Homo sapiens: one gene and its partner. The protein of the gene in region 2 purifies or fractionates together with the protein of the main gene of each other region. This does not show direct contact. Each region holds a gene or a part of one and is shown on either strand. Other genes may lie near its edges.

What was found. The genes of interacting proteins can lie anywhere in the genome.
Region 1: the proteins of CRACR2A (region 2) and ORAI2 purify together in Homo sapiens (co-immunoprecipitation; one study listed by IntAct). This does not show direct contact.

The regions. Positions count from the first base shown.
Region 1 is NC_000007.14:102,432,190-102,436,374, reverse strand, and holds the start of ORAI2 (protein orai-2), read right to left. Parts: upstream 2,801-4,185; 5' UTR 2,714-2,800; intron 174-2,713; exon of another isoform or gene 151-173; 5' UTR 42-150; intron 1-41. UniProt on the Homo sapiens protein: Pore-forming subunit of inward rectifying Ca(2+) release-activated Ca(2+) (CRAC) channels.
Region 2 is NC_000012.12:3,743,110-3,746,609, reverse strand, and holds part of CRACR2A (EF-hand calcium-binding domain-containing protein 4B), read left to right. Parts: intron 1-3,500.

The sequences.
Region 1 (4,185 bases), on a different chromosome or scaffold from region 2:
GGAACAGTTCTGTGCTATTTCTGCCAGGGGATGCCAATTACCAGGTCATTTATACGAATGCCAACTCAGGCTCTCCATCCCATCTCCTTGCGCACATCCGCAGCCAGCAGCACCGCATCCAAGCACTTCCATCCCTGGGACGTTCCTTCCCTTGGGGAGAATTCAGAGAAACGCTGCAATCCGTAGGTTAGCTCCACATAATAGAAAATGCTGTAATTTGGAAACTGCATTTTTCCTCTCCCCCCACCCCCATAGTTAACAGAATTGAGCATGCAGGTCTGATGACCGCAGTATACAGAGACTGGAGGGGTGAGACGCTAACCTTTGCTCCCTCCGTCCTCCCTCCTCCATCACACAGGTGCTTAGCGCACTTGGTACTTAAAGATCCAAGATGAAAGAGGCCAGAATTCATGGCCTCCCAGTAGGGGAGCAAGGTAAGGGGATGTGGGTCAGGAGCAGTAGCTCACACCTGTCATCTTTGGGAGGCTGAGGTGGGCGGATCACTAGAGGTCAGGAGTTCGAGACTAGCCTGGACAACATGGTGGAAACCTGTCTCTTCTAAAAATACAAAAAGTAACTGGGCATGGTGGTGGGCGCCTGTAATCCCAGCTACTCAGGAGGCTGAGGCAGGAGAATTGCCTGATCCCAGGAGGCGGAGGTTGCAGTGAGCTGAGATCCTACCGCGGCACTCCAGCCTGGGTGACACAGTGAGACTCTGTCTTAAAAAAAAAAAAATAGCTGGGTGTGGTGGCAGAGGTTGCAGTGAGCCAAGAGCACACCACTGCACTCCAGCCTGGGCAACAGAGCGAGACTCCATCTCAAAAAAAAAAAAAAAAAAGAGGGGGGGGCAATCCTCATCCACTGAGCTAAAGGCTTCAATGGAGGGCAGGGAGCAGAGGACTGGCTGCCTCACACCAAGGCCAGGAAAAGGTGCTTGCAGGTAACACCGGGGAGGGGACAGAGCGGCCCTTTGCATGCCAAAGTGCCTCATGCCTGTAATCCCAGTGTTTTGTGAGGCCAAGGTGGGAGGATCACCTGCGGCCAGGAGCTGGAGACCAGCCTAGGCAACAGAGTAAGACGCTGTCTCTAAAAATAATTTTTTTTGACATGGGGTCCTGCTGTGTTACCAAGGCTGGAGTGCAGTGGCACAATCTCAGCTCCCTGCAAATTCTACCTCCCAGGCTCAAGCGATCCTCCCGCCTCAACCACCCGAGTAGCTGGGACTACATGTGTGTGCCACCATACCTGGCTAATTTTTGGTATTTTTGGTAGAGACAGGGTTTTGCTATGTTGGCCAGGCTGGTCTAGAACTCCTGAGCTCAAGTGATCCGCCCACCTTGGCCTCCCAAAGTGCTGAGATTATAGGCATGAACCACTGCGCCTGGCCTCTAAAAAGAATTTTAAAAAAGAGGGACCTTTCCTCAAAGACAAGATGCTGCCTGCATGGAAGGATTCCGAGAGACGGGAAGGCCACTCCAGGTGTACATGTGGGGTGGCTCTCCTTGTCCAGGAGATATGGAGGGAAGACTGGCTGCCACCTGGGGGGTGGAGGGGGCAGGGAGATGTGGGTGGAAGACACTTGGAGCCTGGGGCTGTGGAATGAGCCAGAGGGTCTGGGCAGCATGACTGGGCGTCCAGCCACAGGAGAATGGAAGAAATTGGTGAGTGGAACGGTCTGGGCACTGCTAGATCATTCTGGTTTGGGACCACAGTTCAACCCAGGGAAATGGCTGGCCGACTGGCAGGAGTGGGACGCAAGGGAGAGCCTGGTGGCCTCCAAAGGAAGGAAGGGTGAACAAGAGGGATGCCCCATCAGTAAGGGTGGGCTGGGCTCAGGTCTGAGAGTGGAGGTGAAGAGCTCAGGGCAGTGAGGGCTGAGGGTGGCTTCCTGGGAGCCGCCAGGCCTCCCATGCCCCATCGGTGAGGCCCTGCAGATGTCCCCAGAGTGGGTGGGATTGTGGAGGAAACGATGTCTGTCTGCCTGGAGCTGGGTCTTGAGACAGGTCTCCAGGTCTCGAAGGAGCAGCCCAGGAGGGGGTTCAAATCCATCCTTTATGTTCCCAATGCCAACTGTGTGTGCCAGGCCCGGTGGCCCAGGGGGAGGGACAGAGTCTGGGCCTCACACTGGATCCCAGGCAGGGGGTGGGGTGGGGCAGGATGGAGCCCTGTACTTCTGTCAGGTGGCACAGACCCTAGAGGATGCTCCGGGACTGAACCTTGTGGGGTTGCTTTTTTTTTTTTTTTTTTTTTTTTGCTTTAATGAGCAGTCCGAGAAAACAGGTCTTGTAGAATAACGCGATCCCCTCTCTAGAGATGAGCTTTTCTTCCTGGCTGGCCTACTGGACACATTTCCAGAGGGCGGTCTTGGAGTTTGACTTCCTCTAAGCATCTGGGGCACCGGCAATGGCGAGTGTCTCTCTCCAGCAGGCGCACTGGGAGGGGGCCTCCCAGGGGCGCTAGGCTGCATCCCTGTCCCTCCCCCAGGGACGCCCCGGTGTCCGGAACCGGCTGCGCCGCCGACCCTGATCCTCTGGGCGCCGCACCCCGCCAGGGATCCCGCGGGGTGGAGGTCACCAACCCCGGATGGGTAGTGACCGCGCCCGGGCAGCCTACAGTCGTCCCCTTCCCCGCCGAGCGTCCCCGGTCCAATTCCGGCCCCCCCAGCCGCAGGGACCCCGCTCCCCGCGCCAGGCCCCCGCGCCGCCACACTCACCGGAGCTGCCCTCGCCCCGCCCGGCTCGGCTCCCGCTCGGACTGCGTGGCCGCGTGGCCTGTGGCCCAGTGGCCCGGCCGGGGCGCCGAGCGCGGCCCCCTCCCTCCTTCCGCCGGTCGCGCGGGGTCCCCCGGCCCCGCCTCCACCCCGCCCCCGCGGCCGCCGCAGCCGCTGCCAAGGCAACCAGGCGCCGCCAACACGTGACCCACCCGCGGGAGAGCCGCGGCCACGTCACCCGCCGGGCCGGGAGGGGCGGGGCTGGCGGCGCCTCCTCGGAGAGTGGGGGGGTGGGGGTCCCCGCCTCACCTGGAACCACCCCGGGATCGCGCGAGGGAGAGGAGCAGGGGAGGTGGGAAGACCCCGACCCGCGCGCATCCCTCCTGCCCCAGCTCCTGTCCCCGGCCCCAGCTCTGGGAGTCAAGGCGAGGCCCCCCACCGCCCCATCGGGGGTCCGGCTACCCACAGACCACGAGCTGGGCTTTCCCTGCCCCTGGGTCCGGGCGCAAAAGGGGAGCCCCAGGCTTGGCAGGGTGAGCCTCGGGGGGTGCCCAGCATTGGACGCTGGCTGCGTAGAGGGGCGGGGAGTGGGGACAGGGCGGGCGGGTGCAGGTGGGCAGTGGAGGGGAAAGGAAGGTGGGGAGGGGAGAATCCGTCTGGCCACGCCCGAGTTTTCACAGGATTTTTTTTTTTATTTTTTTGAGACAGGGTCTGGCTCTGTCGCCCAGGCTGGACTGCAGTGGTGCGATCACGGTTCAATGCAGCCTCGAATTCCTGAGCTCGAGTGATCCTCTGCCCTCAGTCACCCAAAGTGCTGAGGCTACATGTAGGCAGGAGCCACCACACCGTGGTAGTTTTTAAAAAATTTGTTTTTGTTTGTTTTTTGAGAGGGAGTTTTGCCCTGTCACCCAGGCTGGAGTGCAGTGGTGCCATCTTGGCTCACTGCAACCCCCGACCCCGGGGTTGAAACGATTCTCCTGTCTCAGCCTCCGAGCTACAGGTGCACGCCACTAGCCTGGCTACTTTTTTGTATGTTTAGTAGAGATGGGGTTTCACCATGTTGGCCGGACTGGTCTTGAACTCCTGACCTCAGGTGATCCTGCCTGCCTCGGCCTCCCAAAGTGCTGGGATGATACATGTGAGCCACTGTGCCCAGCCAAAAAAAAAAAAAAAAATTCTTTTTTTAGAGATAGAGTCTTCCTGTATTGCCCAGACTGGTCTTAAACTCCTGGCCTCAAGCAATCCTCTCTTAGCCTCTCAAAGCACTGGGATTACAGGCATGTGCCACAATGTCCAGCTAATTTTTAAATTTTTTAAAAAAATTGAGATGGGTCTTGCTATGTTGCCTCTGCTGGTCTCGAACTCCTGGGCTCAAGTGATCCTCCCACCTCAGCCTCCCAAAGTGCTGGGCATAGAGGCATGGGCCACCTTGCTTGGCCCCTGCCCAGGGTGTTGGATGGCACCATGAAGAGCTT
Region 2 (3,500 bases):
TTCTGGCAGACAGAACAAAATATCACAGACAACCGAAATTTATTTTCTCACAGTTCTGGAGGCTGGAAGTCTAACATCATGGTGCCAGTTTGGTGGGTGAAGGTTCTCTCCTTGGCTTGCAGAAAGCCACTTTCTTTTTGTGTCCTCACATGGCACAGAGAGGGAGAGAATGGGAGAGGAAGAAGGGAGAGGGAGGGTGGAGGAAGGGTGGGGAAGAGGGAGGAGAGAGAGATGGGGAGAGAGAGAGAGAGAGAGAGCTCTCTGGTGTCTCTTCATGATGGGCACTAATCCCATCATGAGGGCCCCACCCTCATGACCTCATCTAAACCTAATCACCTCCTAAAGTCCTCACCTCCAAATACCATCACATTGAGAGTTAGGGCTTCAACATATGAATTGTCGGGGGGACATAATTTAGCTCATAGCAGGAGATGATATGAAAAATAACCAATGATGTTAGTGTTTATAGGCAAGTAAGTAAAGTATATTTCTCATGGCTTTAGAGAGGAGGTAGGATTTGAGCTGCACCTAGAAGTACAGCCCAGGCTGGGAAGCATTTACAGCACAGGGCCCTGAGGCACAGGAACAGCCCTTCACCCCCTCGACAGGGCCATGCCCTTCTGAAGACATGAATGGGGTCAGGGAGGTCAGCGGGAGGGAGATGAGAGACACTGGCCAGAGAGACACCTCCTGCCTTCAGCCAGGTTTTGTTTTTCTGTAGGGAAGGAGATGGTTTGTCAAAGATACTATTTCTTTTTTCTTTTCTCTTCTCTTTTCTTTCTTTATTTTATTTTATTTTATTTTATTTTATTTTATTTTATTTTATTTTTTGAGACGAAGTTTTGTTCTTGTTGCCCAGGCTGGAGCGCAATGGCATGATCTTGGCTCACTGCAACCTACCTACACCTCCTGGGTTCAAGCGATTCTCCTGCCTCAGCCTCCCAAGTAGCTGGGATTACAGGCATGCACCACCATGCCTGGCTAATTTTTGTATTTTTAGTAGAGACGGGGTTTCTCCATCTTGGCCAGGATGGTCTCAAACTCCAGACCTCAAATGATCTGCCTGCCTTGGCCTCCCAAAGTGCTGAGATTACAGGTGTGAGCCACTGCACCTGGCCTAAAGCTACTATTTCTTAACCTGAGCAGGGCTGAAATTTTAGGGGCTTTCTTCCCAAGGCAGGTTTTGTGAGCAAGACAGCAGCAGCGCCACCATCCCCAGAGGAGGACACGGTGGGATTGAGGGAGGAGGAGTTCTTGGAAGTTCATTTCTGTGGGTAGTGTCATCTGAATCACGGTCAGAAATTGCCATTGGGGAGATACCATCAGGGATAACACATTGTTCAGCAGAAGAACCTCTAGATCTTTCAGTGGTGCCATGGCCTGCGGTAGCTTTTTGGTTTTCGGGTCTTCTGGGAGTTTGGATTGAACAGACACCCCGGATACAGATCATCCACAGGATGGAGATCTTGACTCACAGGGCCTTTGGTGTGGCATCTGGGTGCATGGACACAGCCTTCCCTACAGAATCCCACAGAGGGAAGGCCATCCAACTCTTCTTTATGTTATTTTTATTGGACTGTCTTCAGTGGGCAGAGAGTTGAGGTTTAGGGTTTTTTGTTTGTTTGTTTTTGGATCTTCACTGTTTCATTGTGATAAAATATACATAACATAAAATGTATCATTTTAACCATTTTAAGTATACTGCGCAGTGGCAGTAAGTATATTCACATTGTGAATTGTTTCCTCTTCTCAAACTGATGGGGTTGGAGAAGGTTTGGTTTTAACTGTGGCTCCAGGAAGTCATACAGTGATACCGTCTCAGTTCGCTCTCTGCACAATGGCCTCACCATCAGATGTCCTGTCGACTTGGGTAATCTTTCTGCTGCCATTTCTCTCTTATTCCTTTCTGTTTGTTTGGGTTTAAAAAAAAAATTATCTGCTTCAATCAAAAGCACTTCTGTGAGACTGCCCTCCTGTGGGCTAAGTACTTTGTACAGAACCTTGCATATTTCTCCCCAGGGTCCTGTAAGGTAGTATGATCACCCACCCTTTCCAGATGAGGAAAGTGAGCACCACAGATGTAAGTAACATACCCGAGGCAGTGTAATTTCAGAGCTGGGACTTGATTCTGGACTCTCTGATTCTTCCTGCTTCATCTAGACAGGGGTGTCATTGTACAGAGTCAAGCACAGCTTCCCTGTCTGGGCACATTAGTGTCTACTCGAGAAGGTTTCTAGCATCTGCACGGATCTGGGTTTGTATTATGTGAACCATGTTCCATTAGGATTCTTCACTGGGGCCTTTAGCCAAAAAGGATTCACTTAAAAATAGCTTCATTACATACCACAGATAAACTGCTAATGGAATTTACCAAACTGTTAAATTAAGCTTTTCAACTAATTACACACATACTATGAAAGTGTGAGTTTAGCTTTGACCGTGGATTCCTCCCAAGGCAGAGAATTGGTGCACGTTCTCTGGCTAGCAGGGGTTTGGTCACCATCTCAGCTCCTGTTCTTGGTCATGATCTGTTTTGCTTTCCTGTCCCCTCTTGGTATCTCACCACAGCTTGATTCTGCATTTACTCAGGACACAGTTTGTTCCTAGGCTGTGGTTGTCCTGGCCACAGATACTACAGAGTGTATTTGCTATTTCCCCAGCGAGCATTCTTTCTGGCATCTGACACATCTTCTGCGACGTGTCCTCTGGCACATTTCCTATTGCTCGTCATTACCCTCCCCATGGACTGCAAGCCCCTACTGTGTGTCTCAGAACTCAGATTTTTGGGTTGAACTTTCTTTAGGGCACAGGGTTCTGATGTGGCTTAACTCTGGGAATGAAGTCAGCTGGGGAAACAGCAAAGCATTCAACAAACTTCTGGGTGGGCTGCATGCTTCATAATAAGATAATTTGTCAAATGCCTGCCATGTGCCAGGCATTTTCTGATATAGGTCTTACCATGTCCTTTTTACAGTTGAGGAAACTGAGGCTCAGACAGGTTCAACAACTTGTGTGGGTTCACACCAGACACCTAGTCCCGGTATAGACACCTGCACCGTGGACACCTCCCCCAGGCTGTTGATCCCCCTGTGCCTGACTGGCTTCCTACAAAGGGCCGACCCCTTGGGTTGCAGGGTCTGCTTCATAACAGAGCTCTCTCCACACGCCTGTAAAATGGGAGGCAGAAGCCGCCGACGCCGTATCAGGTGAGCTGCCCCAGGCACAGGCCATCCAGAGATATAGGGATGGAAAAGGCCAGTTTAAAAGTCTGATATAGTACTTCGTTTTAAGGAATGCAGTTTTAGTACATTGAACTGCAGCTTGAAGTGGAACCAGAGACACAAAAAGGAACTGCCAGGTAAAATGAGTGTCAATGAAAAAAGAAAAGTTACTCAGCTTCCATTACGTAGTCACACATCGCAAACTAAACGTATTTTTAAAAAATGTACAAGCCCTATTTACAGAAGTTTGAAATAGAATGAAAAGTTCTAATTTGTACT